Homo sapiens: one gene and its partners. The protein of the gene in region 1 purifies or fractionates together with the protein of each later gene. This does not show direct contact. Each region holds a gene or a part of one and is shown in the gene's direction. Other genes may lie near its edges.

The links.
Region 2: the proteins of SH2D3A (region 1) and GDPD3 purify together in Homo sapiens (affinity purification with mass spectrometry; one large-scale study listed by BioGRID and IntAct). This does not show direct contact.
Region 3: the proteins of SH2D3A (region 1) and SCPEP1 purify together in Homo sapiens (affinity purification with mass spectrometry; one large-scale study listed by BioGRID and IntAct). This does not show direct contact.
Region 4: the proteins of SH2D3A (region 1) and ANXA8 purify together in Homo sapiens (affinity purification with mass spectrometry; one large-scale study listed by BioGRID and IntAct). This does not show direct contact.
Region 5: the proteins of SH2D3A (region 1) and ACP3 purify together in Homo sapiens (affinity purification with mass spectrometry; one large-scale study listed by BioGRID and IntAct). This does not show direct contact.
Region 6: the proteins of SH2D3A (region 1) and HEXA purify together in Homo sapiens (affinity purification with mass spectrometry; one large-scale study listed by BioGRID and IntAct). This does not show direct contact.
Region 7: the proteins of SH2D3A (region 1) and RFXAP purify together in Homo sapiens (affinity purification with mass spectrometry; one large-scale study listed by BioGRID and IntAct). This does not show direct contact.

Annotation. Positions count from the first base shown.
Region 1 is NC_000019.10:6,751,660-6,754,547, reverse strand, and holds the end of SH2D3A (SH2 domain-containing protein 3A), read left to right. Parts: intron 1-99; coding exon of another isoform or gene 100-122; coding exon 123-297; coding exon of another isoform or gene 298-384; coding exon 385-496; intron 497-906; coding exon 907-1,092; intron 1,093-1,442; coding exon of another isoform or gene 1,443-1,531; exon of another isoform or gene 1,532-1,773; coding exon of another isoform or gene 1,774-1,794; coding exon 1,795-1,955; 3' UTR 1,956-2,388; downstream 2,389-2,888.
Region 2 is NC_000016.10:30,104,310-30,107,423, reverse strand, and holds the end of GDPD3 (lysophospholipase D GDPD3), read left to right. Parts: intron 1-1,967; exon of another isoform or gene 1,968-2,414; coding exon 2,415-2,552; 3' UTR 2,553-2,614; downstream 2,615-3,114. UniProt on the Homo sapiens protein: Hydrolyzes lysoglycerophospholipids to produce lysophosphatidic acid (LPA) and the corresponding amines. Shows a preference for 1-O-alkyl-sn-glycero-3-phosphocholine (lyso-PAF), lysophosphatidylcholine (lyso-PC) and N-acylethanolamine lysophospholipids.
Region 3 is NC_000017.11:56,998,631-57,002,130, forward strand, and holds part of SCPEP1 (retinoid-inducible serine carboxypeptidase precursor), read left to right. Parts: intron 1-2,224; coding exon 2,225-2,362; intron 2,363-3,387; coding exon 3,388-3,500. UniProt on the Homo sapiens protein: May be involved in vascular wall and kidney homeostasis.
Region 4 is NC_000010.11:47,481,316-47,485,451, reverse strand, and holds the start of ANXA8 (annexin A8), read left to right. Parts: upstream 1-1,336; 5' UTR 1,337-1,431; coding exon of another isoform or gene 1,432-1,518; coding exon 1,519-1,539; intron 1,540-4,136. UniProt on the Homo sapiens protein: This protein is an anticoagulant protein that acts as an indirect inhibitor of the thromboplastin-specific complex, which is involved in the blood coagulation cascade.
Region 5 is NC_000003.12:132,344,907-132,348,406, forward strand, and holds part of ACP3 (prostatic acid phosphatase isoform PAP precursor), read left to right. Parts: intron 1-20; coding exon 21-153; intron 154-3,500. UniProt on the Homo sapiens protein: A non-specific tyrosine phosphatase that dephosphorylates a diverse number of substrates under acidic conditions (pH 4-6) including alkyl, aryl, and acyl orthophosphate monoesters and phosphorylated proteins.
Region 6 is NC_000015.10:72,373,215-72,377,241, reverse strand, and holds the start of HEXA (beta-hexosaminidase subunit alpha isoform 2 preproprotein), read left to right. Parts: upstream 1-1,227; 5' UTR 1,228-1,269; coding exon 1,270-1,522; intron 1,523-4,027. UniProt on the Homo sapiens protein: Hydrolyzes the non-reducing end N-acetyl-D-hexosamine and/or sulfated N-acetyl-D-hexosamine of glycoconjugates, such as the oligosaccharide moieties from proteins and neutral glycolipids, or from certain mucopolysaccharides.
Region 7 is NC_000013.11:36,822,222-36,825,721, forward strand, and holds part of RFXAP (regulatory factor X-associated protein), read left to right. Parts: intron 1-3,206; coding exon 3,207-3,314; intron 3,315-3,500. UniProt on the Homo sapiens protein: Part of the RFX complex that binds to the X-box of MHC II promoters.

The DNA of each region.
Region 1 (2,888 bases):
GCTCCCCACTCATGGTTCCCCAGGGAAGAAGGGAGATGGGGCAATGCCACCTCCTGTCCCCCCTCACCCCTGCATTACAAACCTCCCCACTTCCCCCAGACCCTTGCCCTCCACCTCTGCAGGCATCAGACACTGGCGCTGGCCGGGGCGCTGGCGGTGCTGGGCTGCTCGGGGCCGCTGGAGGAGCGCGCAGCCGCACTGAGGGGACTGGTAGAGCTGGCGCTGGCGCTGCGGCCAGGGGCGGCGGGGGACCTGCCCGGGCTGGCTGCAGTCATGGGCGCCCTGCTCATGCCCCAGGTTCGTGGGGAGCAGGGACTGGAGGAAGCTGGAGTGCGGGTGACTGGGAAGACTGGAGAGGAGGCGTGCTCAGATCTCTTCTCCCAGGTGTCCCGGTTGGAGCACACGTGGCGCCAGCTCCGAAGGAGCCACACGGAGGCTGCGCTGGCCTTTGAGCAGGAGCTGAAGCCGCTGATGCGGGCTCTGGATGAGGGCGCTGGTAAGTGAAGGTCTGGGGCTTAGCATCCCCTGGGGGCCCAGACCAAATTTAACAGGACTCAATCTAGTCCTATGCCCAGTCCCTGCATCTGTTCTAGGCCCGGTCCCTTCACCATAGGCCCCGCCCTCCACATGAGGGTTGGTCCTGGCCCTTTCCCTAGGCCCCGCCCTCCACACGAGACTTGTTCCTAGGCCACGCCCCCACCAGCCTTGGTCCCAGCCCCTTTCCCTAGGCTACGCCCCTTCGCCATAGGCCCCGCCCTCCATACGGGGCGTGTGGTCCTGGCCCCTCTCCACAGACCCCGCTGTCGCTCAGTCCTAAGCCCCGCCCCTGCATTTGTCCTAGGTTCCACCTCTGCCCTATGCCCCATCTACAGCCCCAAACCCTGATCAGACCCTCCCCCTCCGCAGGACCCTGCGACCCCGGCGAGGTGGCGCTGCCGCACGTGGCACCCATGGTTCGCCTACTGGAGGGCGAGGAAGTCGCGGGGCCGCTGGACGAGAGCTGTGAGCGGCTGTTGCGCACCCTGCACGGGGCGCGTCACATGGTCCGGGACGCACCCAAATTCCGCAAGGTGGCAGCCCAGCGCCTGCGAGGTGAGCGTTCCCTCTGCGCTGGACTGCAGACTTCAGAGCACCCTGCAGGTTCTAACCGGATCCCCCAAACCCAGCCTGTCCCAGGAGGGGAGCCTCTCGCCACGCCTCCCGGAGCCCCACCCAAACTGGGACGGCTCCACTCCAGGAAGGTTCTCACCCCAAGCAAACGCTGCATCCAGCGGTATTGATAGGAACAGGGCCGTCCACCTCAAAACGGGCTGTCCTGCCCCCAGAGCCACCTCCGCGGGTCCCCACTCCCCCTTCCCACCTAAGACGATCCCGTCCCCCAGGGATCTCGATCCCCAAGAACGCCCTGCTCCCTCCAAAACGACTCCTCCGTCCTATCCTAGGGCAGCCCACCCGGCAAGATCCCCCCACCTTCCCCGACAACCTGGGATCCCGTCCTCGGGGCAGCCCCACGTCCAGGCACAGCCCCTAAGGCGGGACCTCCAGGATCTGGCACCTGGAACAGGCCACCCCATTGCACTGCGGTAGAGCCCCTCAGGCACCCCACCCCCATTCCTGCAGAGAGCTGGAAGCCCCCTCCCCTCTGACCCCGCCTAGTCATCCCGCAGGTGGGGCAGGTCCCTCCCGGGCCCCTGTTGGGTCAAAGTCCTCTGGGGAAAGGAAGGTGCCGGGAGGTTGGGAGGGGCGAGGCGGGCGCCTGGGCCCCGCCCCCAGCCCACCTGACCTTGCTTCCAGGATTCCGGCCTAACCCGGAGCTGAGGGAGGCCCTGACCACCGGCTTCGTGCGGAGGCTGCTCTGGGGTAGCCGGGGCGCGGGAGCTCCGCGCGCTGAACGCTTTGAGAAGTTCCAGCGCGTCCTCGGCGTCCTGTCGCAGCGCCTGGAGCCTGACCGCTGAGAGCGCAGACACCCTTCTTCACACCCGGGACCCCCAGGTTTTTGCGAACCCCAGAAGAGACCAAAGGAGTCGTCCCAGGCTCCTCGCGCCTCAGGTGGAATCCTGCCCTGTGCCTCACAGAAGAGGTGGGGACCGCAGTCAGGGTCACCTGGACCATGGTGAACATGTGACCTGCAGATCTGGCATCAGAGGCCAGAGTTCAAATGTGACTCCACCTCTTAAAAGCCGTGATTTCTAGCAGTTGACTTCACCTCTGTGTCGGCCTTTAACAAAATCATAGCCATACAGCAGCTCAGGCCTGTAATCTCAGCACTTTGGGAGGCCGAGGCGGAAGGAAGGCTTGAGGCCAGGAGTTCAAGACCAGCCAGGGCAACATGGTGAGACCTCATCTCTACAAAAACTGAAAAATAAAAAACTTTTAAAAAATGTAAAAGTTGAGGCTGTGTACTTTCTAAGAATTGTGGCCAGGAATGAGACCCCAGGTGGAGAATGCCTGGCACACAGTAGGTCTTCAATAAGTGCTACCCATTCTCAGAAGCTGCAGTGCATTCAGAAGGGATGAAACTTGGGTGTCCTGGCCAGGTGCGGTGGCTCACGCCATAATCCCAGCACTTTAGGAGGCCGAGGCAGATGGATCACTTGAGGTCAGGAGTTCAAGACCAGCCTGGCCAACATGGCAAAACCCTGTCTCTACAAAAAATACAAAAATTAGCTGGGCATGATGGTGTGTGCCTGTAATCCCAGCTACTTGGGAGGCTGAGGCAGAATTGCTTGAACTCGGGAGATGGAGTCTGCAGTGAGCTGAGATCACGTACGCCACTGCACTCCAGCCTGGGCAACTGGGTGAGACTGTCTCAAAAAGAAAAAAAAAAGAAACTTGGTATCCTTCTCCCTACCTGAGTCACAAGCAGACACCCACTGACAATGACATAG
Region 2 (3,114 bases), on another chromosome or scaffold:
AAGAAATGCCATAGGCAGAGGCTGGGCACGGCTCCCACCTGTAATCCCAGCCCTTTGAGAGGCCAAGGTGGGAGGATCACTTGAGCCCAGGAGTTTAAGACCAGCCTGGGCAACATACTGAGACCCTCGTCTCTACAAAAAATTTAAAAATTAGCCAAGCGCAGTGGTTTACACCTGTAGTCCCAGCCACTCAGGAGGCTGAGATGGGAGGATCACCTGAGCACGGGGTTTCGAGGGTGCAGTGAGCTATAATCAGAATCACGCCACTGCACTCCACACTCCAGCCTGGGAGAGATAGCCAGACTGTCTCAAAAGAGAGAGAGGAAAGAGCGTGAGAGCCAGAGACAGGGAGAGGGAGGAGAGGGAGGGAAACAGGAAAAAGGAAAGGAAAAGGGAAAGAAAAGAAAAATGCAGAGGCAGGGTGCAGTGGCTCATGCCTGCAATCCCAGCACTTTGGGAGGCCAAGGCCAGCGGATCAACTAAGGTCAGGAGTTCGAGACCAGCCTGGCCAACATTGTGAAACCCCATCTCTACTAAAAATGTAAACATTATCCGGGTATGGTGGCGCATGCCTGTAATCCCAGCTCTACTTGGGAGGCTCAAGCACGAGAATCACTTGAACCCAGGAGCTGGAGGCTATAGTGAGCCGAGATCACGCCACTGCACTCCAGCCTGGGCGACAGAGCAAGACTGTCTCAAAAATAAATAAATAAATAAATAAAATATTAACTGGGCATGGTAGTGCATGCCTGTAGTCCCAGCTAGTTAGGAGGCTGAGGTGGGAGGATCACTTGAGCCCAGGAGGTCAAGGCTACAGTGGGCTGTGATTACACCACTGCACTCCAGTGTTGGCAATACAGAGAGACCTCGTCTCATCTGTATTTTTAAATAAAAAATTCCCATCTCCGCCTACCTCAGTGCCCACTCAACGGGCAGGGAAGGGGCAGAGCTGCAGGAGCTGGGGCAGGTGGCAGTGGAATGGGGGTTTGGGGGAGGGTGGTGCTGTTAAGTGGTCAACAACTAGCTCTCAGAGAGGAACAAATGAAAGCCCTGATTTGAGGATTAATTTTCCTGGTTTAAATACTCCCATCTTGGCCAGTTTCAGGCTGCCGACATGAAGCCACTAAATGCAGAATGGGAAGAGATGCATGGTGGCACCCCATCATGTAGTATTTCCATCTTGCAGCCTCAACAGACTTAATCACTTCAAGAACACAGTAATAGGAAACTGATTAGCAAGAGATATGCTTTGAATATTTATTACTGGATTTTTGTTTGTTTTGGGTTTTGTTTTTTGTTTTGTTTTGTTTTTTGAGACAGAGTCTTGCTCTGTTGCCCAGGCTAGAGTGCAATGGCGTGATCTCAGCTCACTGCAACCTCCACCTCCTGGGTTCAAGCGATTCTCCTGCCTCAGCCTTCTGAGTAGCTGGGATTACAGTCGCCCGCCACCACGCCCAGCTAATTTTTCTGTTTTTAGTAGAGATGGGATTTCACCATGTTGGCCAGGCTGGTCTCGAACTCCTGACCTTAGTTGATCTGCCTGCCTCGGCCTCCCAAAGTGCTGGGATTACAGGCGTGAGCCACTACGCCTGGCCACTTGTTGTTTTAATAATTTATTTAGGGCCGGGCGCGGTGGCTCACACCTGTAATCCCAGCACTTTGGGAGGCCGAGGCGGGTGGATCACGAGGTTAGGAGATCGAGACCATCCTGGCTAACATGGTGAAACCCCATCTCTACTAAAAACAGAAAAATTAGCTGGGCGTGGTGGCGGACATCTGTAGTCCCAGCTACTCAGGAGGCTGAGACAGGAGAATGGTGTGAACCCGGGAGGCAGAGCTTGCAGTGAGCCGAGTTCATGCCACTGTACTCCAGCCCGGGTGACAAACCAAGACTCCATCTCAAAAAATAAATAAATAAATAAATAAATAATTTAATTGTCAGTATATATAATTTTTTTTTTTTTTTTGAGACGAGGTCTTGTTGTATCGCCCAGGCTGGAGTACAGTGGTGCAACCATAGCTCACTGCAGCCTTAGAGTCCTGGGCTCAAGCAATTCTTTCACCTCAGTCTTCCAAGTAGCTGGGAGCACAGGCGCATACCACCACACCGGGCTAATTAATTTTTACAAAGTTTTTTGTAGAGATGAGGTCTCACTCGATCTTAAACACCTGGCCTCAACTCCTGCCTCGGCGTCCCAAAGTGTTGATATTACAGGCGTGAGCCACTGCACCCAGGCTATGATTTAATTTTTAATAATGGCTGGGTTTAATAACCACTTTGCAAAATTCCTGAGAATTTAACAATCAGCTCCAGCCTACTGCTGCTGGGGAGTCTCCATAGAGGAGGAGGTGGGTCCCCACTCTCCAGATGTAAAATTGTTCAGAATCTACAGGCCCCCTCCCTCCCTGCTCAGGTGGTCTTTTGGTGCCTTAATGAAGAGTCGGATTTTGAAGCAGCCTTCAGCGTGGGAGCCACTGGCGTCATAACGGATTATCCCACAGCCCTGCGGCACTACCTGGACAACCATGGACCAGCTGCCCGGACCTCCTAAGTCCAGAAGCCTCGAGGTCTCCTGTTTCTCTTCCTGAAAAATAAATATTTGCCTTTCGATCACATCGTTGTGCTGAGGGTGAGGAGTAGAGGGGTGGGTCCTGAAGATATGAAGATGGCAGCTTAGGAGGGAACAGGCCAGCCCTGAGGCTGGAGCCTGGGGCCCTCAGGAGCCTGACCCACTGGTTCCACTGCATTCCTGTCCTCCTGCCACACCCCACCCCAGCCTGGCCTCCACTCTCCTCAGCAATGTCCTCTCACGGCCAACCCAGGCATCCTGGCCCCCAGCCACTTGACAGCAACAGGTAATGGTTCCATTTTCCTGAGGCCATCAACAGCCCAGGCACCGGGCAGGGAACTTGATCTCTTCCATGTCTTGCCCTGTGAGCTTCCTTCTCGGGCTGCAGAGGATGGGCCTGGGTGGGACAGCTGAGTTCACCCAGCCCCTCTGCTGCCCCCGCCATTCCAACCTTCTCCTCCCAGGTCTCCTTCTCCAGAAGCTCCCAGAATGCTTCTGCCATCTTCAGCCCCAGGGCCATATTCACTGAAGGAACTACACATTC
Region 3 (3,500 bases), on another chromosome or scaffold:
CCACGTTTTGTAGGTGAGCAAATAGATACAGAGACAGTAAATGACTTGTCAGGGCTGGATGCAGTGGCTCACGCCTATAATCCCACCACTGTGGGAGACTGAGTTGAGAGGATTGCTTGAGGCCACAATTAAGCAACATAGTAAAGCCCCATCTCTTTAAAAAAATAGAAAAATTAGCTGGGCATGGTGGCATGTGGCATATAGTTCTAACTACTTGGGAGGCTGAGGTGGGAGGATTGCTTGAACCCAGGAGTTTGAGGGTACAGTGAGCTATGATTATGCCACTGCTCTCCAGCCTGGGCAGCAGAGAGAAACCCTGTTTCTTAAAAAGGGGAAAAAAAAGACATCAAAATTGATTCAAAATAAGGAGTTGGTAGGGAGCTGAGTGGGGAGGGAAATAATGTGTAATTGGTTGTGAGTTAATAATTGTTGAAGCCTGGTATGGGTACATCGGAGCATTGTATGCTTCTCCTTTCTATCCATTTGAAATTTTCCATAATAAAAAATTAAGATAAAAAAGCTACATCGAAGGCCACAGTTGGTTGCAGATGAGATTTCGCGCCAAAGGTCCTTGCAGGATGTCAGAGACACCCAGGTGCTCGGGCAGATTTTGACCAGCTCTCTCTTGCTGACCTCCCCAGGCATCCTGATGCTGGATATGGCCAGGCATTACTGCGTTCTGGTCTCAAGGCCATGGTGAGGAAATAATGAAATCCTTAGAGACCAGGGCCAGGTAGAAATCTTGGTTAAGTTCCTACTTTAGTCCTATAGGGAGGCCTTGAGCAAGCAGAGATCTCAGGTTTCTGAAGGGAAAATACTCCAAACCTAAGAGGGTTTTGTTTCATGTGTGTTCAAGATACCCCAAGGATATGGGGTCAGTGGTCCTGCGGCTGCTGCTGGGAGCCTACGATTTGCTGCTGCTGGGAGCTTTCTCAGGGGACATGGGCCCTCCTCTCCCAACCTGCAGTCACCAGAGGTCTCATTCCATCCCTGGTTTTTTCATTACTCCTGAGTGCTGGGAGAATTTTAGAAATGAAGAAAAATTAGCTCAAATGAAAAGAGCTGGGTGTGGCCGGGTGTGGTGGCTCACGCCTGTAATCCCAGCATTTTGGGATGCCAAGGTGGGCGGATCACCTGAGGTCGGGAGTTCGAGACCAGCCTGACCAACATGGAGAAACCCTGTCTCTACTAAAAATACAAAATTAGCTGGGTGAGGTGGCACATGCCTGTAATCCCAGCTACTTGGGAGGCTGAGGTGGGGGAATCGCTTGAACCCGAGAGGCAGAGATTGCGGTGAGCCAAGATTGTGCCATTGCACTCCAGCCTGGGCAATAAGAGTGAAACTCTGTCTAAAAAAAAAAAAAAAAAAAAGAGCTGGGCGTGGTGGTGTGCATCTGTAGTCTCAGCTACTTGGGAGGCTGAGGTGGGAGGATCGCTTAAGCCTGGGAGGTAGAGGCTGCAGTGAGCTGAGATTGTGCCCCCGCTCTCCAGCCTGGGTGACAGGGTGAGACTCTGTCTCAAATAAGTAAATAAATAAATAAAAATTAAATTTTTTTAAAAGAAGACTTCTTATCTCCCAAGGTAATGAAGAAGAAAATGGGATGTTGCTTGTCAGATGCCTCCTTGGCAGTGACTAGCAAATAATGGTGGCTGCCACTCTTATTGCTGTCATTCAGTGTTAGGATAATGCTGATGGGCAGGAGCTAGCAAGAGTACTAGCTCCTCTCTTGCCTGGGGCTTGTTATTCATTTGGCTTTCCTGAGGGCCAGCTCTGAATTGGTTTAGGTTTGATCTGGTTTATTATAAGGTAGGCCTACCTGTTCAGAACTTGAAACTTGGCCCTGGTGTTACTCAAAAAAACAGGAAAACTGACATTGGCCCAAAGCACAATTTATTCCCTGAGTGTACCAGCCTAATGAGTATTTCCTGGGCCTCTCCCTCCCTGTTTCCTTGGACAGTAGCCTATTCCAGGTGTCAATTCCTCATTAAAAATGGTGCCTGCTGTCATCACAAGCTCTCAAGAGAATGGACCACATGTGCTATTTATGTGTGCCTTACACCTGACCAGTCGGCACAAATTTCTGGGCTGGTTCATCCCTGTTTGTGAAGCATCTGTGCATTCAGTCGTTGTTCGGTGCTGGAGCCCAAGATGCTCTGGGCTGAAAGGTACCTCCTGTTTTGGCAGATTCCAAGCTACTCCCTCTTTCTCCTTCCCCATGTGCAGGCCAGGCTACCAACGTCTTTGTGAACATGGAGGAGGACTTCATGAAGCCAGTCATTAGCATTGTGGACGAGTTGCTGGAGGCAGGGATCAACGTGACGGTGTATAATGGACAGCTGGATCTCATCGTAGATACCATGGGTAGGAATTGACTCTGAGAGGCACCTAGAGGCAGTTTTATGGGTTCAACTGGAAGGGAACTGGCCTTGGACATGTCAGTCTTGCGGTGGGTGATGTTGAAATGCCAGGTGGAAGGCCATTTCCCATTACATCCGTCTACCCCGACCTTGATTATTCAAAGGGTGGGGAGCTGCACGTGGCTGTGACCCCTCAGAAGCCTGAGCCTACCTGGGTTTGGGGGCCCTTAGGTATGATTAAAGAAAAGAACACCACCTGTCTCTACCACAAAACTTAGACATTTTCCTGGTTATTGGGCAAATGCGCTGTTTAATTAAGGGAGAGCCTCATTTTTGTGCGACATCACAGTCGATGTTGACCACTGCAGAGTGAATTAAAACTAAACCCTAATGACTGTAACCCTGAAGACCCAGGGGAAATGGTCTTTGTGGAATCCTGACTCCTGCCCTATCACCTACCACCTGTTTAATTTGCTCACTTCCAAATTAAATAGGGCCTGGTGGAGGCTCAGAGACAGGTTCTCTGAACTGGCAGGGTAATTGAGGCACAAGGTCTGACGGATGTGACACGCCTCGTGAACCAGAAGGATTGAATATTTTTGTGATGGGTAAACAAGAGACACCAAGGACAATTTGGAAAGCTGCTGCATTTCTCGATGAACATCCCAGGTGATCCTTATCACTATCTCGTTCACGACATCTCTCAGTCCTCCTCACAGGCCTGTCTGCCTCCAGAGGTCCCCAGTTCCCTTCCTAAAGAGCAGATGGCGGTGAGAGATGCAGAGGCAAAATCAGTCAGGCTTTGCAGCTGTTAGGTTTCTCCCAGCAGCCTAGGTTTCACTGGGAGTCAGAAATGCAGATGCTCAGGCCCTACCCTGATCTTCTGAATCAGAATTTGCATTTTAACAAGATCCTGAGTGAGTTTCATGCATATTGCAGTTTGGGAAGCACCAACTTTTAGGACCTAGACTTTTTTCCTATTCTATCCAGCTGTTAATGCCAGGCCTTTCTCTTTGTCCTTCTCACCAGGTCAGGAGGCCTGGGTGCGGAAACTGAAGTGGCCAGAACTGCCTAAATTCAGTCAGCTGAAGTGGAAGGCCCTGTACAGTGACCCTAAATCTTTGGAAACATCTGCTTTTGTC
Region 4 (4,136 bases), on another chromosome or scaffold:
AGCTGAACCTTATATCCTGGTTTGGTTCCTGATGACTTTCAAATTCTCCTGACCCAAACGCAAGCTCAGAAGCACAAGCACATTGTTGGTGGCAGTACAGACTGAAACACCCTCTTTGGATGGCAGTTCCTCTCACAGGACTTTATTCTCCAGGTATGCACAGGCACACACAGGTGCCCAAAGGATAAACACACAGATCTATTGTAGCATATTTGTATTACTGAGAGATTAGAAACATCCTAAAATGTTAACCAAATCGCTTGGATGAAAAGTTTTGCTCTGCTTATTAGGTTTGGCGTACAATATGGAGGTGACATCTGTTACTTCCAGTGTATTATAGATACTTTAGCTCCAAAAATGATACCTGTACCTAGATGGGCACCAAAAGGGAATGGTTAACAAATATTGCATATACAGGGGTATGGGGCAGCTCCGGGGCTGGGGATGGCGGCGGCCAGGTTTGCAGCGGCTCCAGGATGAGCGGGTGGATCCCGGGAAGCGTGGTGAAATGGGCTGGCTCCCGAGCCAGCCGGGAGGACGCTTACTACAGCTGCTCAGAAGCACCACTGGAAGCTCAGATGTAGGTGCCCCAGCCAGAAGCAGAGAGGGGTTCAGAGAAGCTACAGAGAAGCCCCTCCTGATGCCCCAGGGAGCAAGCCAACTCCTTCCAGGCTCCAGGAACACCACAAAGCAATATGAAACCTGTTCATGAGAGGAACCAGGAATGCCTTCCACCAAAGAAACGAGACCTCCCCATGACCAGCTGCTCCACTAACCACACATCCTCCAGTGATGCCTCTGAATGGTCCCGAGGGGTTGTGGTGGCCGGGCAGAGCCAGGCAGGAGCCAGAGTCAGCCTGGGGGGTGATGGAGCTGAGGCCATCACCGGTCTGACAGTGGACCAGTATGGCATGCTGTATAAGGTGGCTGTGCCGCCTGCCACCTTCTCACCAACTGGCCTCCCATCTGTGGTGAATATGAGCCCCTTGCCCCCGGAAAAAAAAAATAATATTGCATATGCAGTTGATTAAATGGCATACTCCATGGCTATTAGGAGTGATGAAAATGGGCTGGGTGCGGTGGCTCATGCCTGTAATCCCAGCACTTTGGTAGGCCAAGGTGGGCAGATCACCTGAGGTCGGGAGTTTGAGACCAGCCTAATCAACATGGAGCTGTGTTTACTGAGTGGGGCTTTCGCAGGCTGGAGCTAAGAATTTCCAGTATGCGTAACAGCCACAGCCCAAATATCTGCCAGTGAGTTGTGTAATTCCCCAGAGCAGGCCTGGGCAGTGTCTGGGTGGGGCCTGGGAGCCACAGGAGATGCCCAAAGCCAGGCAGAGCCCGGGGGCGAGGGGACGGCAGGCAGGTGTGGCGCTGCCCTGGGCGGGCTTGCACCCCCACACCCAAGTGAGCGGCCTGCTCACTCCTCAGCTGCAGGAGCCAGACGTGTGGAGTCCCAGCAGAGGCCAACCTGTGTCTCTTCATCTCCCTGGGAAAGGTGCCCCCGAGGTGAAAGAGATGGCCTGGTGGAAATCCTGGGTAAGTGGGAGCTGGCAGGAGATTTGGGTTCCTGCATGGTGTTGGGTGCTGGTCACCAGGGAGTCCTGAGAAATGTAAAGTCGCCCTTGGCTGGGAGTGGCTCAGTCTACATTTGGCTGCCTCCTGGGCCAAGCATGGAGGGTGGGAAGGGGCCGAGAAGAAACAGTCCCAGGCCTAGAGTGCCCACGGCAGGGATGGGACCTGGGCCGGGAGACAGGCTGATGAAGAAATCTAGAAATGCAAGGGGGAAGCTGAGGTTTGAGAAGAGTCCAGGGGAGGGACCCTTGCAGGGGTGGGGCCACTCAAAGGAGGGGGTATCATGGTTGAGCCTTGTGTGTAAATGTGTATGGGGTGCACACACGTGTGCATTTGGGGAGAATCAGGCATACTGCTCCTGGCAGAGGGAACTGTGTGCAGAGGGTCAGAGGGCAGGGAGCTTGGCTTCGAGGGAAGCTGCTCAGCACAGCTCAAGGGTCCTGGTACCGGAGGAGATGGACCTGGGGAAGCAGGCAGGGCCAGGTCCTGAAAGGCCTTGCCTGGCAGGCTGAGGAGTTAGGCTTTACCTTAAGAGAAGTGGGAAGGCACTGAAGGGCTTTGAGCATGAGAGTAACCTGAACCTGCTGTTGGGGACCCATCAATGCCTTCACCTCAGGGATCAATGATGTTCATTTGTCAAGACTGGAGAGGGAAGAGGGGAAGCAGGAGGACCTGGCCTGCTAGAGCCTGGAGGAACCCGGGGCTCAGGGCAGCCCATCCCCAGCAGAACTGATGGGTTCTCGGGAGCTTTCCATCTATGGTTGAGCCTGAGGCCATCGCTGTGCTAAGGAGTTGAATATCCAGAAGGGGACAGAGGTGACATCTCCCGGCTGCCGGCTCTGCACACCCTTTTCCTTTCCTCCCAGGCAGCCTCAGGATGTCAGGGCTGCACTTTCTGTTTTGCAGATGATGAAATGAAGGCTCAGAGACACTGAGTGACTTGCTAGGGTCCAATGGCCAGCAGGCTCCAGTCAGAGAGCAGTTGGGTCTCTCTGCCCAGCCCCAGGTTCTCTGTGAGCTTTTGTGGGATACCCAGGCTTGTCCAGCTTCAGGGAGTCTCTGGATCATAGATGTCGCAACCCAAGCAAGTGTCCTCAGGGTCAGACATGCTAGGTTCTGGACAGGTGGGACAAAGAGGAAGCCAGGCTGAGGTGGGGCAGCTGTCCTGGCCCCCAGGGAAGCAGCCTTCTTCCAGGACAAGGGGCCATGGAGGCCTGCAGCTTCAACCAGACTGCTGGGAACCTGCCTTTGAGGAGGTGGACATGGCAGGGAGAGCCCAGTGCTGGGTGGTTTCCAAAGTCAGTTGCTGGCCAAGGCAGTCTGGCACTGGGCCTTGCACCCAGTGCAGCAGGACAAAGGGCTGTCCATGTAGGGACCTGCCAAATTGACAGGATCACTGTGACACTCACTGAGTCCCTACTCTGTGGCCGGACCCTTCTCTAAGCACCTCACATTCAATATCTCCCTTGAACCTCACAAGGAGTCTATGAAGTAGACACCAGTATCCTTATCCACAGATGAGGAAACTGAGGCACAAGTAGGCTAGGCAGGTGCCCGAACTCACTAGTAAGTGTGAGAGTCTAGGTGAGAATCTGAACAGCCTGACTCCAGGGCCAAAACCATACCCTGGTCGTCCATACCCCATGTGAGAGCTGGCTAGGGGTAGCAAGTTCACAGGTAGACCCCACCTGCAACAGCTGAGCTGCTAGCGAAGACCCAGTGTCCTCTAGGCACAAAGCTGGGCCAGGAACGCGATGGGAGGAGATGAGGGAGCCACTGGAGAGAGATCTGTCTGCAGGCAGGGTCCATCTGCACCTCTCTTTTTGGTGTTGCCTTTTCCTCTGTGTCTCTCATAGAGACAAACCCATCTCCCAGGCCTCTGGGCAGCCACGTAGCAGGGGAAGGCCAAGGCGTGGCAGCTCCCCTGTGCCTGTCACAGAACAAGTTATATTAATAGATGTAGTCACAGGCTGGTCTGAGTCACCTTTTCAGTGAAAATGTGCCTGTCTGGACTAGCACGGCCCTGGGCAAGACCCTGCAGGAGCCTGAGGCTGACCCTTCCTTCTCAGCAGGAGGTCTGGAGCTCCAGGACTCCACACTGATAGCCAGGGCTCCGATTCCCAGAACACTTATTTTCTAAAACCTTAGAGTGGGAAGTGAGACAGAGGCTTCTCAATGCAGCAAAATCAGAACCAGCCAGGGAGCTGCTTACAAATGCTGCACCTGAGACCTACCGCACCCCTGCGGGACTGCATGCTCCTCAGGGATGCGGTTACACAGCCTGGCCACTCGCTGGTGCACCACAGCCCCCGAGTGCTGGGGCAGAGGGAAGCCGGCAGGCACTGAGAGCTGAGATGCCTCCCACATTCCCAGATGACCTGCGTTCCTGTGGGTGAAGCTTCCTTCAGTGGAACGTTCCAGGAACACTCATTGTCTGGGAAAGGTGGAGTCATCAGTAGGGCAGGGGAGGTAGATAGAGCTCAGCTTCTGAGTCAGGCTGGGGAGTCCCAACAGCATCACTTACTAGCTGTGTAAGGGAGTCCAGCTCCCTTTCTGTAAAG
Region 5 (3,500 bases), on another chromosome or scaffold:
TTCCTTTTTCTTTGCTACAGAGTGTTCACAATTTCACTTTACCCTCCTGGGCCACTGAGGACACCATGACTAAGTTGAGAGAATTGTCAGAATTGTCCCTCCTGTCCCTCTATGGAATTCACAAGCAGAAAGAGAAATCTAGGCTCCAAGGGGGTAAGTATTAAAAAATGAGAGGAGCATATTGGATTTGTGGTTGAATGATCCAGGTCTGAGTCATTCCCTCCACTAATCAACTGTGTGATCTCAGACAGTTCACTTAATCACTCTTGCACCAGCTTCCATTCTGCAAAATGGGGATATTAATGATACCTACTTCATAGACAGTGAGTATTAAAATGAATGTATGTATTCAAATGGCTTAGAGCAAACAGTACCTGGTACATAATACACTGTCAATAAATGTCATATGTTAGTATAATCATAACTATTACTCACTCAAGCCCTTAGTTTTCTATCTGGAAAATGAAAGCTAAAGCTAAATGATCCTTTCCATCCCCTCCAGATCAAAAATCAAGGATCTGTGTCTGAGCCACATGAAAATCAATTGTGTCTTGTGGCCTATATGATGAATTTTTCAAGTGGGAGGTATGACAAAAGTGGCCTGTTTTCCTGAAACCCTGAGTGGTAGTCATTGTGAAAGCCGATAAAATATATTTTTCAGGCTAATTGTTATATTTTTCAGACCAATTATGTGCTGTTAAAATATGTTGCAATTGACAAGTTTATAACACAGCTTGAAATTTTTCATTGACATTGAAAGCTGTTGAGATTTATTTATCAGTGATGCCTCTTCTTGGTTAGAACTGGCTCTTCGTAGCACAGGACACCCTGTCATATGAAGGCAGACCCAGGCAAGAGGATGCTGGATTCTTGTAATCAGGATAAGTGGATGGAAGAAAAAAGTCAGGACCAGCAAAGACAAGGACAGATGTTGGGGCTTATGAGAGAAACTGGATGGGCAGGCCAAGATACCAAATGAGGTGTCAGACTTAGATGTGGTTATCATAGGTATTAAAACTAGGGATAAAGAAGAAGAGAAAGTTCATCATGTCAGGTTGACGTAATGAGGAAAGTCCAAGCCACAGGAGATGGTCCAAGTCAGGCTGACACACATATTCAAGGCATTTTGAGATTAATACAATCACATCATGATTCCAGCCATTGACAGACACTATTCACCACAGCATCAGGACAAGTCCATCAAAATCCCAAGAGAATGCATAGAGGCAAAGCATATTAGGGCTGGACCAGACTGGGAGGTTGTTCACTGAGGCTACTTAACTAGGGAAAAAATTCAAATCACTGACCAGAAAAGGAATCAATTATAGCTAGAAAAGCAGGGCTGCACACCAGGTATAAAGAGTGAGGCAAGCTGTAACCAGGGGAATGAGGTATGAAACCAGGATGGTCAGGAGCAAATTCATGTGAGATGAATAAAGTAGGTTGGGGCAAAAAATTTAGGACAGTGGCCATTAACGACATGAGGTTGTTGTAGATCTGCTATTACAAAAATCCTGATTGCATGGCACAGAGACAGACTTGATAGAAATGTGCAAGTCCTTACTTCACATTAAACACATGAGCAACAAGATCCAGCCTTGAGGAAGGGAGAGTCTCCAGAGAGGAGTCTTAGATGGAAGCTGGAGTGTTGGAAAAAATTACCAGGCGGGATACAGACTGTGTCTATGGGCAGAACCCAGGAAGAAGCTCAATCTTAAGTGCTTAACAACAAAAGATGTAGAGGGTGCCTTGGAAGCCACATAAGCACTCAGCCTCATTTCTGGCCCACCAGGTGCCAGCAGTGTGACTCAGTTGCAAGCCCCATCAAATGGTGGAAGCGGGACTCTTGATTTATTTCCCCCAACCTAGTTATGGTGGATTCAGGCACCTAGTCCCTCACAACTCAAAGTGCAGTCTACTTTTCAGCATCGGCATCAACTACCACCTGGCTAGAAACACAGGCCCCACTCCCAAACGAGTTGAATCAGGATCTGCATTTGAATAAAATCCCAACATGCTTTATACCAGACAGGAGTTGACAGTAGTCTAATAGTAGATGTAGGGATGTGTATGTATGAATAAGAAATGGAGTTGCTCCACTTTCCTCATGTTTCCTCTTTTATTTCCCTTGCCTACTAGAAGATTACATTTGGGAGAAGCCACTTCCCCTCTCTGGATCTCTGTTTCACTACCTATGAGGAGATTAAACTAGACTGTCTATAAGAGTCCTTCTCTGAGTTGTTCTCTGATCTTGGATTCTAAAGGCTGGCACTTGTATGAAACCAGCTGTCCTGCTTTCTGGAAAAAGTCCAGCGCCATTGTTAAGCAGGAAAATTTCTCCTGTGTGGTTCTGCCAAAACAAAAGCTCAGACTATTATTCAGATCTGGCTGGGCAAGAGAGATTTGTCAACTACATGTTTATTGAATGATGAAACAGCTGCACACATTCCTGCACAGAAAACACACATTGTCTAGGTGACAAAGAGTAATGTGGACACATCAGGGCCATCTTCTGACCTTTGCTAGTTTTTTTGTTAGTTTGTTTTGTTTTTGTTTCTTTGTATTTTTTGTTTGTTTTTGTGTCTGTTTTTGAGACAGGGTCTCATTCTGTCCTCCAGGCTGGAGTGCAGCAGCATGATCACGGCTCACTGTAGCCTTGACCTCCCAGGCTCAAGCGATCCTCCCACCTCAGACTCCCAAGTAGCTGGGACTACAGTCATGCACCACCATGCCCAGCTAAATTTTTTTTAAATTTTTTGCAAAGACAGGGTCTCCTTATGTTGCCCAGGCTAGTCTTGAACTCCTGGGCTCAAGCGATCCTCCACCTTGGCCTCCCAAAGTTCTGGGATTATAGGCATGAACTACTGTGCCCAGTCTAGAATTTTTATTTCATCATTTAACTTCAGGGGTGACACTGTTCAGTAAGACACACACACATACACACACACACACACACACACACACACCAAAAAAATCCCTGGGGCAAATTTAGGATCATATGGCTGGTCATATCAGTGAAAAGAGAGCTCTTCTTGCTCTAGGCCAGAGGTTGGCAAACTACTGCCTGTATGCCTAATCCAGCCCACTACCTGGTTTTGTAAATAAAGTTTTATTGAAATACAGCCACACTCATTCATTTATGCATTGTCTATTGCTGCTTTCATGCTACCACCGCAGAGCTGAGTAGTTGCAACAGATTTTTTAACCCACAAAGCCTAAGACATTTACTCTCTGGACTTTTACAGAAAAGTTTGCCAACCTCTGCTGTAGACTAGAAATGAAGGAAGCAAAGTTTATGTCTTCAGGTCAATGATATTTTTGTCTAGTTTACGAAGATTTAATAAAGGATACAACAGATAACTTTGAAGCTAGCTTTCCACGATAGCATGTTCTAATGATTACAAATAAAGGTTTTGACACAGGACATGCTAGATTTAAAGCCCTCCTTCTCTGCTTGCAAGTTGTATAATCTAATCAAGTTTCTGAGCCTCTCCAAGCCT
Region 6 (4,027 bases), on another chromosome or scaffold:
GTGTTATCATGCCCAGTGAAAGCCCTTTATTTTTAAAAGTTCATTTTCCTGATCTTTACATGTATTTTAATACTAAAATTAAATTTAAAAATTTTAAAAAGTACCTACTAACCAAATAATGCCACCCAATAACAATAGCATTATTTGTATTATGTTCTGGTAATATAGTGGTGAACAAGGAAGACAGGGTCTCTGATAACTGTGGAATTCTCCTTGATCACTTCTCAAGCCTCTCTTCCGGATACTATTTCTTGGATCTACAGCTGTCTTCCTTCCCCACTTCTGTAGTTCAGTCTCTCATTATTCTCTACCTCCAATAAAAAGGGGCCTCCTAACTGGTTTCTTATGCAACTACTCAACATGGTATTTCTAAAATGCAGATCTTTCGGGATGATTTTCAATTGCTCAGAGAATAAATTCCTTGACTTTCTACGTAAGGCCCTGCAGGACCAGGCCCCTGTCATTATCTCTGAGCACTCTCCATCTTGCACCCAAAGCCCCAGCAATATCTTACTGCTTTCAGTAAATACACACCGGGCTATGTGGGGTTTTGTCTGGGGAAAGGGGATGTGAGTTGTAACTAAGAGATTTATAGTCAATCTTGAAGGGAAGAGCTCATATTGGAGGCAATGGAATGCCTCAAGCTGGCTCTGAAAGTACACATTTTTTCCAGTCATAAGTAGATCACATTTGTGTGATCTTGTGATCCTCTCTCTAGCAGAGCCGTGCAGACTACCTACTTCCGGCCCTTTCTTGCCCCACGAAATTTCACATCACAACGACTTGTGGTTTTAATCCTCCGTTTTTCTGCTTCTGAAGTTACTTCAGCCTGGCAAGTCCTTTACCTCCCCGTAGGCCTGGCGAGCTGCATCACAACATTCAAGATTCACCCTAGAGCCATCTGGGAAACTTTCTTCTCCAGGTCGCCCTGCGTCCTCGCCTCCCCACCCCGTTCTTCTCGAGTCGGGTGAGCTGTCTAGTTCCATCACGGCCGGCACGGCCGCAGGGGTGGCCGGTTATTTACTGCTCTACTGGGCCCGTGAACAGTCTGGCGAGCCGAGCAGTTGCCGACGCCCGGCACAATCCGCTGCACGTAGCAGGAGCCTCAGGTCCAGGCCGGAAGTGAAAGGGCAGGGTGTGGGTCCTCCTGGGGTCGCAGGCGCAGAGCCGCCTCTGGTCACGTGATTCGCCGATAAGTCACGGGGGCGCCGCTCACCTGACCAGGGTCTCACGTGGCCAGCCCCCTCCGAGAGGGGAGACCAGCGGGCCATGACAAGCTCCAGGCTTTGGTTTTCGCTGCTGCTGGCGGCAGCGTTCGCAGGACGGGCGACGGCCCTCTGGCCCTGGCCTCAGAACTTCCAAACCTCCGACCAGCGCTACGTCCTTTACCCGAACAACTTTCAATTCCAGTACGATGTCAGCTCGGCCGCGCAGCCCGGCTGCTCAGTCCTCGACGAGGCCTTCCAGCGCTATCGTGACCTGCTTTTCGGTTCCGGGTCTTGGCCCCGTCCTTACCTCACAGGTGAGTCGGACTTGTCCCGCCCTGTTCCTGGGCCCTGAGAGTGCCTGCCTGGGGACAGTTCCCCCAGGGCTCCAGAGACGCCCTATGGGCTTTTGTCCAGCCCTCTGATCACAGGCACTCCACTTCCTCCTCGAGCTGCATTAGGTTTTCATCCAAAGATAACTACTATAGGACTACGGTTCAATCAGGAGATTAATTTATGGAAAATACTGTGCCAGCAGAAATCTAAGGTGATCCTTCTGACCGTGTTCAAGCTAGCCAGGGTCCTAGTGAGACTGTGAGCAAGGGCTGAGTAGAGACCAGAGAAAACACTCAAAATTGGGGAGACATAATACAAGAACTATGCAAAGTTACATACAAGTTTCTGGCACATAGAATGTTTGGCGGGCGGATCACGAGGTCAGGAGTTCGAGACCAGCCCGGCCAACATAGTGAAACCCCGTCTCTACCAAAAACACAAAAAATTAGCCAGGCGTGGCGGCGCGCGCCTGTAGTCCCAGCTACTCGGGATGCTGAGGCAGGAGAATCGGTTGAACCCATGAGGTGGAGGTTGTGGTGAGCTGAGATCGCGCCACTGCACTCCAGCCTGGGCAACAGAGCAAGACTCCCTCTCAGAAAAACAACCCCCCCCCCCAAACAAAACAAAACAAAACAAAAAAAGTGTAAATTGTGAAAGAAATCATAGAACATAAGGAAGTGAGTTTCCAGCGGCCACTTGGAATGGGATGGTAGATGTAATTAGCCGGGACTGAAAAGAGGGTATTCCAGGCAGGAAGAAGGGCTTGAGCAGAGGCACAAAGAATTATGATTGAGTTCAAAGTTCAGGTCTAGTGGATGTGATGAGTGGGGGCTGGGGATTGAGGAGGGATGAGGGTGGGGAAAATGTGGGGTTGAAGAGTCAAGAGCGCTTTAGACATTGGTTTCACATAAAATGGAAGGGGCTAACAGTTTTCTTTTAGGCAGCTATGTAATCAGTACTGAAAATTGTATTTGAGGATAATTATTCCACAGCACATTTGTAAGTCGAGCCAACAATGTAAAGGAATACAATTCTGCTGCATGGGTTCAAAATTTAGAAGTTTCTTGATAATCTGGAATCTAGCTCTTTGGTTATATTGTATAGATGTTATGGGGGTGGGAGCCACATTTACGGTTAAGTCTTGTAGTAATATTTTATATGATGTTTCAAGTGTGTTTAAATTACTTTCACAAAAGTTATCATTTGATATATAGAATTAAAAGCATTTAATTATACAGATGACCCTTAGAGAGTGACATTTGATTTGGGGAAAGAAACACAATCTCAGCATCAGGGTAGTCCTTAACTGGTAAAATGCATTAAGCTGGAGAGGATAAGAGGCCTGCTGTTGAGTGTGGTAGATCACATTTTCCTCTGAATCCTTCATGACAAATAATAGAGTGCCTTACCCAAGATTGGCACTCAGAATATGTTGATTTTGGTTTAGAAGAGTTTGAGCCTGGTTTATGGAAAAAAAAATCCGTCTAACTGGTATATGTCAATCCCAGTGCTGGGCACTCTGAAGGTTACAAGAAAAGTCTTAAGACCTAGGCCTAGGCTCTATAGTTCAATTGCGAAAATATGAAACAGAGGGAGGTACACAGTGAATTATAAGATTCTCAAAAGCTTTATAGGTTGTTTCCTACTATTGTATACATGAGAATAATTCCTTTCCTTTTTTTTTTTTTTTTTGAGACGGAGTCTCGCTTTATCACTCAGCCTACACTGAGGCTGAGTGCAGTGATACGATCTTGGCTCACTGCAGCCTCCGCCTCCTGGGTTCAAGCGATTCTCCTGCCTCAGCCTCCCGAGTAGGTGGGACTACACGTGCTTGCCACCACGCCCAGCTAATTTTTGTATTTTTAGTAGAGATGGGGTTTCACCATGTTGGCCAGGCTGGTCTCAAACTCCTGGCCTCAAGTGATCCACCCACCTCAGCCTCCCAAAGTGCTGAGATTACAGGCATGAGCCACCGCGCCATACCTAATTCCTATACTTCTAAATTAGGCCTTCACCTCCATTGCTATAGCACCATAGTTTAATCAAGTAGATAGAAATGGAGAGATTGTAAGATAATGGAATACTATAAATTCCCTAACAAAAGAGATTTAGAGCCAGATAAATTCAATAAGATGTTTATTTCCATATATTACCTTCCTGTAAGTTCATTAGCTTTATTAGTTGAGGGTTCTTGTCCATTGAGAGAAAATGAAAACTGGGTTGGGTGAACATTACCAAAGACTTAAAAGTAACTTCTTTCTCTATTGCTCTTCCCATGGAGTCTTCCCTTTGGAATGTAGTTTCCTGTGGAGGCTTTTAGGTGACTTTGAGCTAAAATCCTAGTTCTGCAGAAACAAGGATGAAGCAATAGCATGGGAAACAAATAGAGGTAGAGCAATACCAACAAGGCTGAAGCCAGAATACATTTCTTTATGAGTCTGATTTTAGTAAAGAAGGCAACATATGCAGGTTAAATCTTAACTAAC
Region 7 (3,500 bases), on another chromosome or scaffold:
CTGGGATTACAGGCATGCACCACCACGCCCGGCTAATTTTTGTATTTTTAGTAGAGACGCGGTTTTGCCATGTTGGCCAGTCTGGTCTCGAACTCCTGATCCTCCCACCTCAGCCTCCTGAAGTGCTGGGATTACGGGTGAGACCCACCACGCCGGCCTAATAATACTTATTTTCAAGAAAGAAGTAGTTAACCTATGGCTGCTTACTTTTTTTTTTTTAAACTACCTAACATTTACATCTACAGTGAGGAAAATGTATAAAAGGCAGATAGATACTGAATTAGCGTCTCCCTCTGCACCTCCCACAAAAAGAACCTTATTACTATTTTGTTATTTATTTACTTATCTAATTTTTTAGAGATGGGTCTCACAGTGTTGCCCAGGCTGGCCTCGAATTCCTGGGCTCAAGTGATCCTCCTGCCTCAGCCTTCAGAGTAACTGGGATTATTTCACCACTGCACCTAGCTTCACTATTTTAAAATAATTTGCATGACTTTTTATGGAAGGGAATTAATTGCTATAAGCAACAAATAATACTAATAGTTTACTATCCAGTTTGTCTTATATTTTGGGATACTTTATCAGTTCTGAGGAGGTAACAAGATCTGTAAATCTTTATCTTTGTTAAACTGAGTGTAAAGAAAATAACAGTGCCAGCCAGGATATAATAAGAGCCAACTGTATAGTCCGGTTTTAGTAGTTCAGAGGAGGATAGATCATTGTAGGCTGAGATACTCCAGAAAGGCTTTGCAGAGGAAACGTGACTCAGTATAAACCAGAAAGGATGGGCAATAGTTTACGCTTAATGAGCTGAGTTTCTTATGTGTCAAGCACTGTGTTAAGCTATAAATGGAGTCTCACAACCCTTCAGCAATGGGATAGATACTATATTTTACATACATGGAAACTGAGGCACAGAGAGGCTAAAGAATTTGGCCTAGGTCATACAGCCAGCAAGTATTGTACTCAAACGCAAGCAGTCTTATTCTAGAGCTTTCACTTTTACCTCCTTACTATACTGCTTCCCTAGAATTCTGGTAGATAAAAGGAAAGAGAAGCACATTTTAGTAAAGAAAGAGAAGTAGGAATACAGAAAACACTTTTGTGAAGATAGCAAGTGGACTATTCTAGCTAAAATAGTTGAGTGGAAAATTCATGAGAGAGAAATTTGGAAAGATAGGTTGAAGCCAGTTTTTTATAGTATTGAATGCCAGGCTATGGGATTTGGATTTGGAGTCTTTAAATGAAATGATCTAATTAGGAAGTAGCAGAGGATCCTACCCTGATGGAGTGGGTTAAAGTTGAGAGCCTATAGATTTTGAGACTCTTTCGAAGATTATTATAGTAGGACTGACAGGTGATGATGGTGTCTTCTGCTATGTTGTGAGCAGCAAGATTAGAAATTAAGTTCTCTATTCCAATGAAGAATTTATTAAGGTAAAAAAATTAAAGAAATTAAGGTATCTAAAATTAATATTTCTTACACAAGTCAAGGTTAAATGAGGAACAAATGTGTATAATGTCTACTCCACCAATCTAAGAACTATGCTATATGAGAGACACATAAAGGGACTAGGGATAAATGAATTGACCTCTGCTGGTGGGATTGTTCTTATTAAATATCTAAAAAGCTATCATTTAAGAGAAGCAGTAGACTTATATGGCATGATTCTGAGGTAACTAGGACTCTTAGGCATAAATCACAAGGAGTATGTATTTCAGCTCAGCTTAAGTAAAGCTACCTAACATTCTACCGAAATGTTAGAGCTATTCAAAACCAAATGAAATGTGGCAAAAGTTGGTAAACTCTGTAGGACAAAAAGCATTGCAGGTTTTTGAAAAAGAATTCCAACATCTGTACAAGTTTGGACTAGATGACTAAAGGTTATTTTCACTACAAGCTTCTTTATCTAATTCAGTATCTAATATTTTGTGAATTAACCTTTTGAATTTCCATAGTGGGGTTGTGAGGGCAGAGGGTACTGTACCATCAAGTCAATTTCAGCATTCCATTATCTTGCACATAAAAATGAAAGAATCTCATAAATAAAATCAACTTGGGGGTTGCTGGAGGAGGAAGAAATTATTTTTGTTTCCTCTGGGTATTAGAATTTTCTTTTTACAGTTTTTATATGTTGAGGCCTAAAATGTTTAGGGGTGAAATATTTTTGTAATATCAGGTTGGTAAACTTCTCATAATGAAAGAAATTAAGGGGATATTCTCATAGATAACTCAGAGGCCAGTAGAAAGAAGCCCAAGAGAAAAAACAGCATAGATAATATTCTAAGTAAAGAACAAAGAGGTTAAATTCATGTAAGGTATGGCTTTCCGGTAAAACATTTATAATTTTATATTTGCTACTTTAGTAAGAATTTTGGATGTGGTATTGTGGCATAGTTTTGTAAGAGTCAGAATATTTCAGTCAACTAAACAATATTTTGTTATGCCAGCAAAATTACAAGTATTTAAGATGCTGTCAGGTAACTGGGGGTACATATTTGGTAATAAGTGCTGCTGATTTTGTTTTTGGGCAGTGAAATCTCAGGGTAATGGTATCATTTTAGGACTTACCTGTTTTGTTCATACAGTTGGCAGGAGACTATTTATACTAGTGCTTTTTCAAGCAAGTTTATCTAAATTTTGAAAGCTTTGGTTATCAGTTGCTTCTTTAAACAATATTTTACTACTCCCCCATTTGTTTTGGTTGCCAACTGGGTAAAAAGCTATCAGATATCTTATTGAGCAGTATATAATTTGCCTCTGAGTTCATATATTTCATCCAAAGGCAAGCAGATTATGTTTCGGCCTGGATAGCATTATATAAAGAGAATGGTCAATTCCACTTGGCATTTTTTGTAATATTGAAAATAGCTCACAAGTAACTCTGCCTCAATCTTAGTGGCCCACCTCTCACAGTATTACTATATCACACTCTATCACACACACTATTAATTTTGAGACCTGCCAAGAGACTAAAGAACCCAGGTTGAAAATCTGGGGGGAGAGGGAGCGAGGAGGAATGTTACATTAAATTAACTGCCAATACTTTGCCTATGATAATGAAGAACTTTCCCAGAGTTGCCCAGAGACTGGGCAAGAAGAAGGAAGAAATGCAAAGACCTGTTCATTACATCTTTGAAATACCTGTAATCATGACTTATTACGTTAACTGTTTATCTATTTGCATTTTTATCATTTATCCCAGGAAAGTGCAGATAACATACTCTCCATTGTTAAACAAAGAACAGGATCTTTTGGGGATCGTCCTGCAAGACCTACTCTTTTAGAACAAGTGTTAAATCAAAAAAGACTGGTAAATATCTGTTTGTAAATCAGTTATAAATGTGTTAACAAACGTTTGTTATAAATGGAACAATTGAGATTTTTGAGATTTTTAGCTCATGACATCACACTATACATCAAAATAAATTCCTAATAAGTCAAAATTTTAAAAAAAGAATCGGAACTTTACCTCAAAAATGTAATGAGATTTTTTTTA